Regions from separate parts of the Homo sapiens genome. Here all the other regions are linked to region 1. The links come from fine-mapping of genetic effects on gene expression. A gene starts in region 1. Each other region holds a variant in brackets. All regions are shown on one strand. Distances are from middle to middle. Region 1 holds the start of SHISA6 (shisa family member 6). Region 2 overlaps DNAH9 (dynein axonemal heavy chain 9). Region 3 overlaps DNAH9 (dynein axonemal heavy chain 9).

What was found. PIP is the estimated chance that this variant, and not a neighbour inherited with it, causes the effect.
Region 2: its variant is the best candidate, but not a certain one, in a credible set for the expression of SHISA6 in testis (GTEx, PIP 0.78).
Region 3: its variant is the best candidate, but not a certain one, in a credible set for the expression of SHISA6 in tibial nerve (GTEx, PIP 0.85).

The regions. Positions count from the first base shown.
Region 1 is chr17:11,239,852-11,242,351 of GRCh38, forward strand. SHISA6 (shisa family member 6) reads left to right here and starts at 1,362. Exons shown (of 6, transcript NM_207386.4): 1 at 1,362-2,209. The coding sequence starts at 1,572.
Region 2 is chr17:11,906,649-11,909,148 of GRCh38, forward strand. The region is part of intron 61 of DNAH9 (dynein axonemal heavy chain 9); the gene reads left to right. Among named protein-coding and RNA genes, the nearest start is that of ZNF18, 90 kb to the right of the region's middle. RefSeq lists a silencer at 2,092-2,284. The variant A/G (reference allele first, on the strand shown) is at 1,144.
Region 3 is chr17:11,813,694-11,816,193 of GRCh38, forward strand. All of the region lies in intron 45 of DNAH9 (dynein axonemal heavy chain 9), which reads left to right. Among named protein-coding and RNA genes, the nearest start is that of ZNF18, 180 kb to the right of the region's middle. The variant T/C (reference allele first, on the strand shown) is at 1,337.

The sequences.
Region 1 (2,500 bases):
TACAAAGCTGAGTCTCAGAGGTTCAGATAGCTTTCTAATGGCCTCGAGGCTCCGCGGGGAAAAAAAAAAGTATAGCAAAGAGTTGCCATCCAGTCCTGGGGCTGTCTAGCGCCTTTATGCGTAGTGGGTACGGGGTTGGGGAAAGAGTGACCAAGGGGAAGAGAGTGTAGGCTCAGCTCACGGGTCGCCCAACAGCCTCAGACAAGCCACTTGACCCCTGGACTCAGTTTGGGAACCTGTAGCAATGGGTTTGACCTCTTCTCCTGGCTGCGAGTATCACCACTAGGGAGAGGCAAAGGCTTGCAGAAACCCCAACTCCCGCTCAGGCAGCGCGCTGCCCCGGGCTCCGGTAGGGTGGGGACTGGTCGCGAAGGCTAGAGAAGGCAATGGCAGGGGAGGTCAGTCCCTGCCGCGGGCCGGCTGCAGAGCGGACGTTCCGCCCTGCTCCCGGCCCCCTCTTCGCCCGCCGGGTTCGCCGTGTCGAATAACTGCTGTCCGGAGCTTTCGTGACGCGGAGCTTCAACTGCTGCGATCCGGAAGAAGCGAAAAGGAGTCCCCCCCGCCCCGCACCCTGAGCGCCCGGGCGTGCAAACGTGGGTGGCGGAGAGCGGCTGCCCTCCCCTCCCCTGTCCCCCCTCCCCTCGCGGCGCTCCCGTGTGTGCGGGTGTGTGAGTGCGTGTGTCTCCCTCGCTCACTCTCGCACACGTTCCGGCACTAGTGCAGGCGGCGAGCCGGCGGCTCTCCGCTCGCTCGCTCCGGCAGCTGCGTTCCCGCCTCGCCCCGCCGCCGCCGCCGCCGCCGCCGCCGCCGCCTCTGCAGTCGCAGCCGGGCATGGTGAGTGAGTGAGGTCCAGCCGCCGCGCGCTCTCCCGGCTCGCCGCCGGACCCCAGCCTCAACCGGCTCCGTCCCAGGGAGCCAGCCTGCGGCGGGAGCGCGCTGCGGGGCCGGGCGGCTGGGGGACCCGGGCGGCCGAGCTGCGCCTGGAGGGGCGGCCCGTGCGCTCTCGGTTCCAGGCGCGCAGGGCCGCGGGACCCCGTCTTGGGAGCGGGCTCTACGCCCCTCCCGGCTCCGAGTCTCTCTCCTCGAGGGCTGCGCGCACCCTCCCCGCCCGCCTGCCCGCGGTTCTCCTCCTGCTCCCGGAGCGCCAGTCGCCCCACCCCGTGACCGGCTCCCCGTCTTGTCCCGCAGGACCCGCCCGGACGGGACCACGCCGCCGCCGCCGCCGCCGCCGCCCGGAGCCGCGCTTCGGGTCCTGCCTGAGCCGAGCCGCGCGCGGGGCCGCAGTCACCGCCGGCGGGGGATGGGGCTGCCCAGGAGGCGCGCCGAGCCCGCAGGGGGAGCGCGGAGCCGGCGCGCAGCCTGAGAGCCCGAGCAGCCCGCGCCGGGCCGGTCCGTGCGCACCGCGCGCCGCCGCCGCCACTGCCGCCCGCGCCTCGATGGCGCCATCGCCCCGGAGCCGCTGACCGCTCAGCGCCTCCAGCCCGGCCCGCGCGGCGGGTCCTCCGAGCCCGGCCCGCCGGGGGAGCGGCCTGCCGCGGAAGCCTCCCCGCGCCCTCCCGCCCGGCCCCGCCATGGCGCTGCGGCGCCTCCTGCTGCTGCTGCTGCTCTCGCTGGAGTCCCTGGACCTGCTGCCCAGCGTCCACGGAGCCCGCGGCCGCGCCGCCAACCGGACCCTGAGTGCAGGCGGCGCTGCCGTCGGGGGCCGGAGGGCCGGGGGCGCCCTGGCACGGGGCGGCCGCGAGCTGAACGGCACCGCCCGGGCGCCCGGAATCCCGGAGGCGGGAAGCCGGCGGGGGCAGCCCGCGGCGGCTGTGGCGGCGGCGGCCAGCGCGGCCGTCACCTACGAGACGTGCTGGGGCTACTACGACGTGAGCGGCCAGTACGACAAGGAGTTCGAGTGTAACAACAGCGAGAGCGGCTACCTGTACTGCTGCGGTACCTGCTACTACCGCTTCTGCTGCAAGAAGCGCCACGAGAAGCTGGACCAGCGCCAGTGCACCAACTACCAGAGCCCGGTGTGGGTACAGACGCCCAGCACCAAGGTGGTGTCGCCGGGGCCCGAGAACAAGTACGACCCGGAGAAGGACAAGACCAACTTCACCGTCTACATCACCTGCGGGGTGATCGCCTTCGTCATCGTGGCCGGCGTCTTCGCCAAGGTCTCCTACGACAAGGCCCACCGCCCTCCACGGGAGATGAACATCCACAGGTGAGAGCGCCGCGTGCCGCGCGCCCCGGTCTCCCCGCGGCCTCACCCTCTCAGCTTGCTTCCCCTGTCCTCTTCACTCTCGGCATCATCACACCTCCCCAGGCCCTCTAGTCATTTCCACCATCGCTCCTTTTGCATGCAATAAATCAGGGTCTTCTTGTGCCCCCTCCTCCATTTCTTCAGAACCGGGAATGCATGCTTTGGTGGTAGGGGGATTTACAAGGCAGAGTAAGAATTGGTTGAGTGCATGAAGTTCCAAGTGTAAGAATGTTACAAATTCTGTAATCGTGG
Region 2 (2,500 bases), 670 kb after region 1:
AAATGTGATACATATATACCATGGAATACTATGCAGCCATAAAAAGGAATGAGATCATGTCCTTTTCAGGGATGTGAATGGAGTTGGAAGCCATTATCCTCCACTAACTAATGCAGGAACAGAAAACCAAACACCGAACGTTCTCACTTAAAGTGGGAGCTGAGTGATGAAAACACATGAGCACAAAGAGGGGAAGAACACACACTGGGGCCTATTGAGGGGGTGGCAGAGGAAGAGCATCAGGAGGAATAGCTTAATGGATGCTGGGCTTAATACCGAGGTGATGGGATGATCTATGCAGCAAACCACCATGGCACATGTTTACCTATGGAACAAACCTGCACATGTACCACTGAACTTAAAATAAAGTTAAAGAAACAAAAATAGAATATTCAGCATGTCCAACTTCAAAACCAAAAAAACAAAAATGATAAGGGGTGGTGGAGACCAAGGTTTTTTCATGCAGTGAAGCCTCCAGGTAGCAGGCTTCAGAGAGAATAGATTGTAAGCGTTTCTTATCAGACTTAAAGAGTCTGTCCTGGCCGGGCACGGTGGCTCACGCCTGTAATCCCAACACTTTGGGAGGCCAAGGCAGGTGGATTACCTGAGGTCAGGAGTTCGAGACTAGCCTGACCAACACAGAGAAACCCCATCTCTACTAAAAATACAAAATTAGCTGGGCATGGTGGTGCATGCCTGTAATCCCAGCCACTCAGGAGGCTGAGGCAGGAGAATCGCTTGAACCCAGGAGTCAGAGGTTGCAGTGAGCCAAGACCACACTATAGCACTCCAGCCTGGGCAACAAGAGTGAAAAAAAAAAAAGAGTCTGTCCTATCAGTAATTCCAAAAGAAAGGAGGGTGTAATGAGGCATGTCTGACCCCCCCTTCCCATCATGGCCTGAACTAGTTTTTCAAGTTAACTTTGGAATGTCCTTTGCTGAGAGAAGGGGTCCATTCAGAATGGCTGGGAGGCTTAGGATTTTATTTCTGGTTTTCAAGTCTAGTATTGATTATGGAATGAAAGAACTAACAGCATATGCTTTGTGCCTCAGGGGAGGAGAGATAAAGCTAACTAGGCCCTAAAGAACGAATAAGATGTGCATAATAAAATCAGTAATAGAGAAGAATTAAAAATGAAAAGCA[A/G]CAGCCCCCAGCACCAGCCCTCCAGATACGCAGTCCCCCTTCCCAGGCCCTATGCTTTTGTCCATTTCTGAATTTAGTTCCTTTGAGAATTACTTCTCATTTCCTAGTAATAACCTTATATCACCATTTTTGTATTAGCAGTTTTAGATAAAGTGTCTATTCCTGATATGAAAAACAAGGATTTAGCGTGCACTGTGTTCTGTCTGTGTCGTCTTAGATTCTGTATGTGTCTGTTTGGCACTGAAGCATCACAGGGCCAAATGCATTAACTATACAGTCTTCCCTCCACATACACGGGGTGGGGACTGGGAGGTATTGGTTCCAGTCCTTGCATATCCCAGTCCCATCACCGGCCCTGCCATTTGTATATACAGGCTTCACATCTCTCAAATACTGCTGTATTTTCATCTGAGTTTGGTTGAAAAAAATCCATGTGTAAGTGGACCCACACAATTCAAACCTGTGTTGTTCAAGGGTCGACTGTACTCTCTTTTTCTATATTCTTCTAAAACAAATTTTTTAATTGACAAATAATAATTGCACATATCAATGAGACACATAGTGAAGTTTCCATTCACATAATACATAGTAGTCAGATCAGGGTGATTAGTATCATGAGCAGCACAAAGTCAGACATAACCAGATCCACAGACATTTGTGTCTTTCTACAGTATCAGTCTTTTACTGATGCTATTCCAATCATAAAAGCCACAAGCTTTACGGAGGTAATTCTTCTTAGTATATCCCATTTACTCGGTAGTCAGAGCTGTAGGCACACAGGCTCAAGCCATTCCAAAAGTCAGTCGATATTGCAAACCATACATAATGGTATACTAAATCAATACAAATGTTACAGATTAAACATTCCACATCAAACGAAGTAACATCTAACATCAAGAGAAAGGGGATAGGAAAATGGGTTAATGAAACAGTCCAAGGGGAGCAATGTGGACAAAAAGAATCTCCTGTCCTGGTCTGGGCAGTCTTTTAACGAACCACAAGGAAGAGTCTTTGATGTGGGCAGAGCCTTCCGCGGATGCCGGGTGTTTATCACAATTAACAGCAAGACCAGTGTCTGTCAAGATGGCTGTTCTGAGCCAGTGAAGTCCTCTGGTGAGGACTGATAGTGGGAAAGTGTGCCTGGTTATGTCCTTATCTGGTTGCATGCAGTCTCTACTGATTAGGCAAACATCTGGTCCCTGTTGGTACGATGCCTTTTAAAATGTAAGATGGAGTCTTTTGCTAAGATGGAATTACTTATGCTCCATACATTAGCATATCCACGAACTCAAACATTTAATCATTTCCTTGTGTTGGGAACGTTCCATATCCACCTTCTAGCTACTTGAAACTATAT
Region 3 (2,500 bases), 570 kb after region 1:
CTTCTTTATCTCACCATTTCATTTCTTGTTTTCCTGACACCATTTCTAAAATCAAACCATGATAGTAATTTGGCTTATGAATCTACTTCTGACACGAACTACAGCATTTCAGAACCCATCTTTATGCCAGTTGTATCTCAGATGGATTATAGATGGACATGAAGAAATCTTACACACAAAGCAAAAATATTAAATTAGGTTCCTGGTTTAATTAGCAAAAGATACATAACTGTATAAGAACTAGAGTGGCTGCCCAGGGTAAGAGCAGATGAACCACATATTTGAGTCACTTCCCTTGGCTGCTGGGGTCCTTGATAGGGGTCATGCAACTGCTGGTGAAACTGTGCATGAAATGTGAGTCCTTGCTGGATCTGAAAGGTTCATTACTGGCTATGTTCTTATTGACCTGCTATAATAATTCCTGAGGAATGTGCACTGATCATCAAACCCAGGCATTTAAGGAATTCTTACAAAACTTGTTCTCTTTTTGACCTTCACTTAAACTCAACTTCAGCAAGTCCCCACTCTAATTTAGAGGGAAAAAAAATCAGAATTATTCCCTGGCTTTCCAGGAAAACACCTCTTCCTCCAGCTTTCCAGCCTTCCAGAAGGCCCATTTTACTCTGGTGCCCCTGCCAGTTAGCACTAACCAGCTAAGAAAACCTAGTCAGCTCCAAGTGTGATGTTTCTTCCACCCCTAGCTATGACAGATTTTGTATTTTATTTTATTTTGGAATCCTATGTTAGGATTTTCCTTTTGCTTTCCAAAAGGCTGAATTGTTTTATTCAAAATTATAATTCATTTTCCTGTCCCAGGCTAGATGACTTTCTATGTATTCATATATTCAATAATCATTTACTAAGTGTGCATGCTCAGTCACTAGGTACTGTGCTCAAAGATGAATAACATGTAACCTCTGTGCAGTCTCATGGAAGAGTTTATAACCAATGGGGTCCCTCTCTTCTAAAGTCATATTCTTCTTTATCTCTAAACCAAACTGTTCTTTTTATATATCTGTGGGCCAAATCTCCTCTTAGGATCTAGAACATAAAAAGATCCACCTCATATCCTAGGTGCTTTAGGATTAGAGCTAGGGTTGACATGTTAGTGTTCAACACACATCCTATGAGAATGCAGAGCCCGGAAGTGTTTATAACAGACTTGGCATTGGATTGTTCTCCTCTGGTGGCCGTCTGGAACTGGACTTCCTGAGGAGCCATCTATGCTGTTAAATAAATTGAATTCTGGCCCAGTTTCCCTAGAAAGAAAAAAAAAACAATAAAGTTGGGGCAAAAAAGCAACCATCAAGCATGCACTGATCCTCTAAGACATACT[T/C]AGTGGACTCATTAGATCTGCTCACTGGCTGTGCCCTCAAACCACAGACAGTGGAACTTTAAACCAGGACCGGTTTGGTTCTCCAGCTGCAAAACAGAAACTCCCAAAGAGCAATGCAAAAAGAAGCATGAGCAATCAGACTTTTCTTTTCCTTTTGTGGTAATAAACTGTTTTTTTTTTTCTTGTGGAACTGAAGTCCTATACAAGTTACTCAAGAGACTTTGTGTTCTGTGGATTCCCTATATTGCTAACCTCTCCCTTACCACCTATGTCCAAGAGATAATCTATTGCCACCAATTTTCCCCTTATCTATTTCTGAATCCGTATCTTCTCTATCCTCACTACCACTGGTTTTGCCTTCTTTTGCCTTGACAAACGCCAACACTCCTTAACTTATCTCTCTACTTCCCATGCTATCCCCACTCCAATCCATTCTCCTCACTCCTTGCAAAAGGGTCTATCTCAACTATAATTCCTGGCCAGGAGCAGTGGCTTACACCTGTAATCCCAGCACTTTGGGAGGCCAAGATGGGCGGGTCACTTGAGCCCCAGAGTTCAAGGCCAACCTGGGCAACATGGCAAAACCTTATCTCTATGAAAAGTACAAAGAGTATCGGGGCTTGATGGAGCGCACCTCAGGTCCCAGCAACTCGGGAGGCTAAGGTGGGAAGATCGCTTGTGCCCAGGAGCTTGAGGCTGCAATGAGTTGTGATTGTGCCATTGCAATCCAGCCTGGCTGACAGAGCAAGACCATGTCTCCAAAAAAAGAAAAAAGAAAACAAACAAACAAAAACACTGTAATTTTTTTATTAGTTCCCAACTGGTTGCAGAATGAACTCCAAGCTTCTTTGTCCTGTTTCCTTCCTTCCTTGCTAGTCTCACTTCCCATCTTGTGATCTAGTGATTCCTAATTCCTTAAGGTAACACACTGTGCTACTTGCTGACATCCTTAATTGCTTATGCTGTTCCTTTTGAACCTCATGCCCTTCTTTGTCTGGATTAACTTCTACCCACAGTAGAAGACTTACCTTAGGCGTTCCCTCTCTAGAAAATCTAGAGACAGATCCACTGTCACTCTTAGGAATGAGTTCCCCATATTCCTACAGCACTCGATAGCTGCACGTACCACCACTGTATTGAAACGAGATTGTAAATTTATGAAAG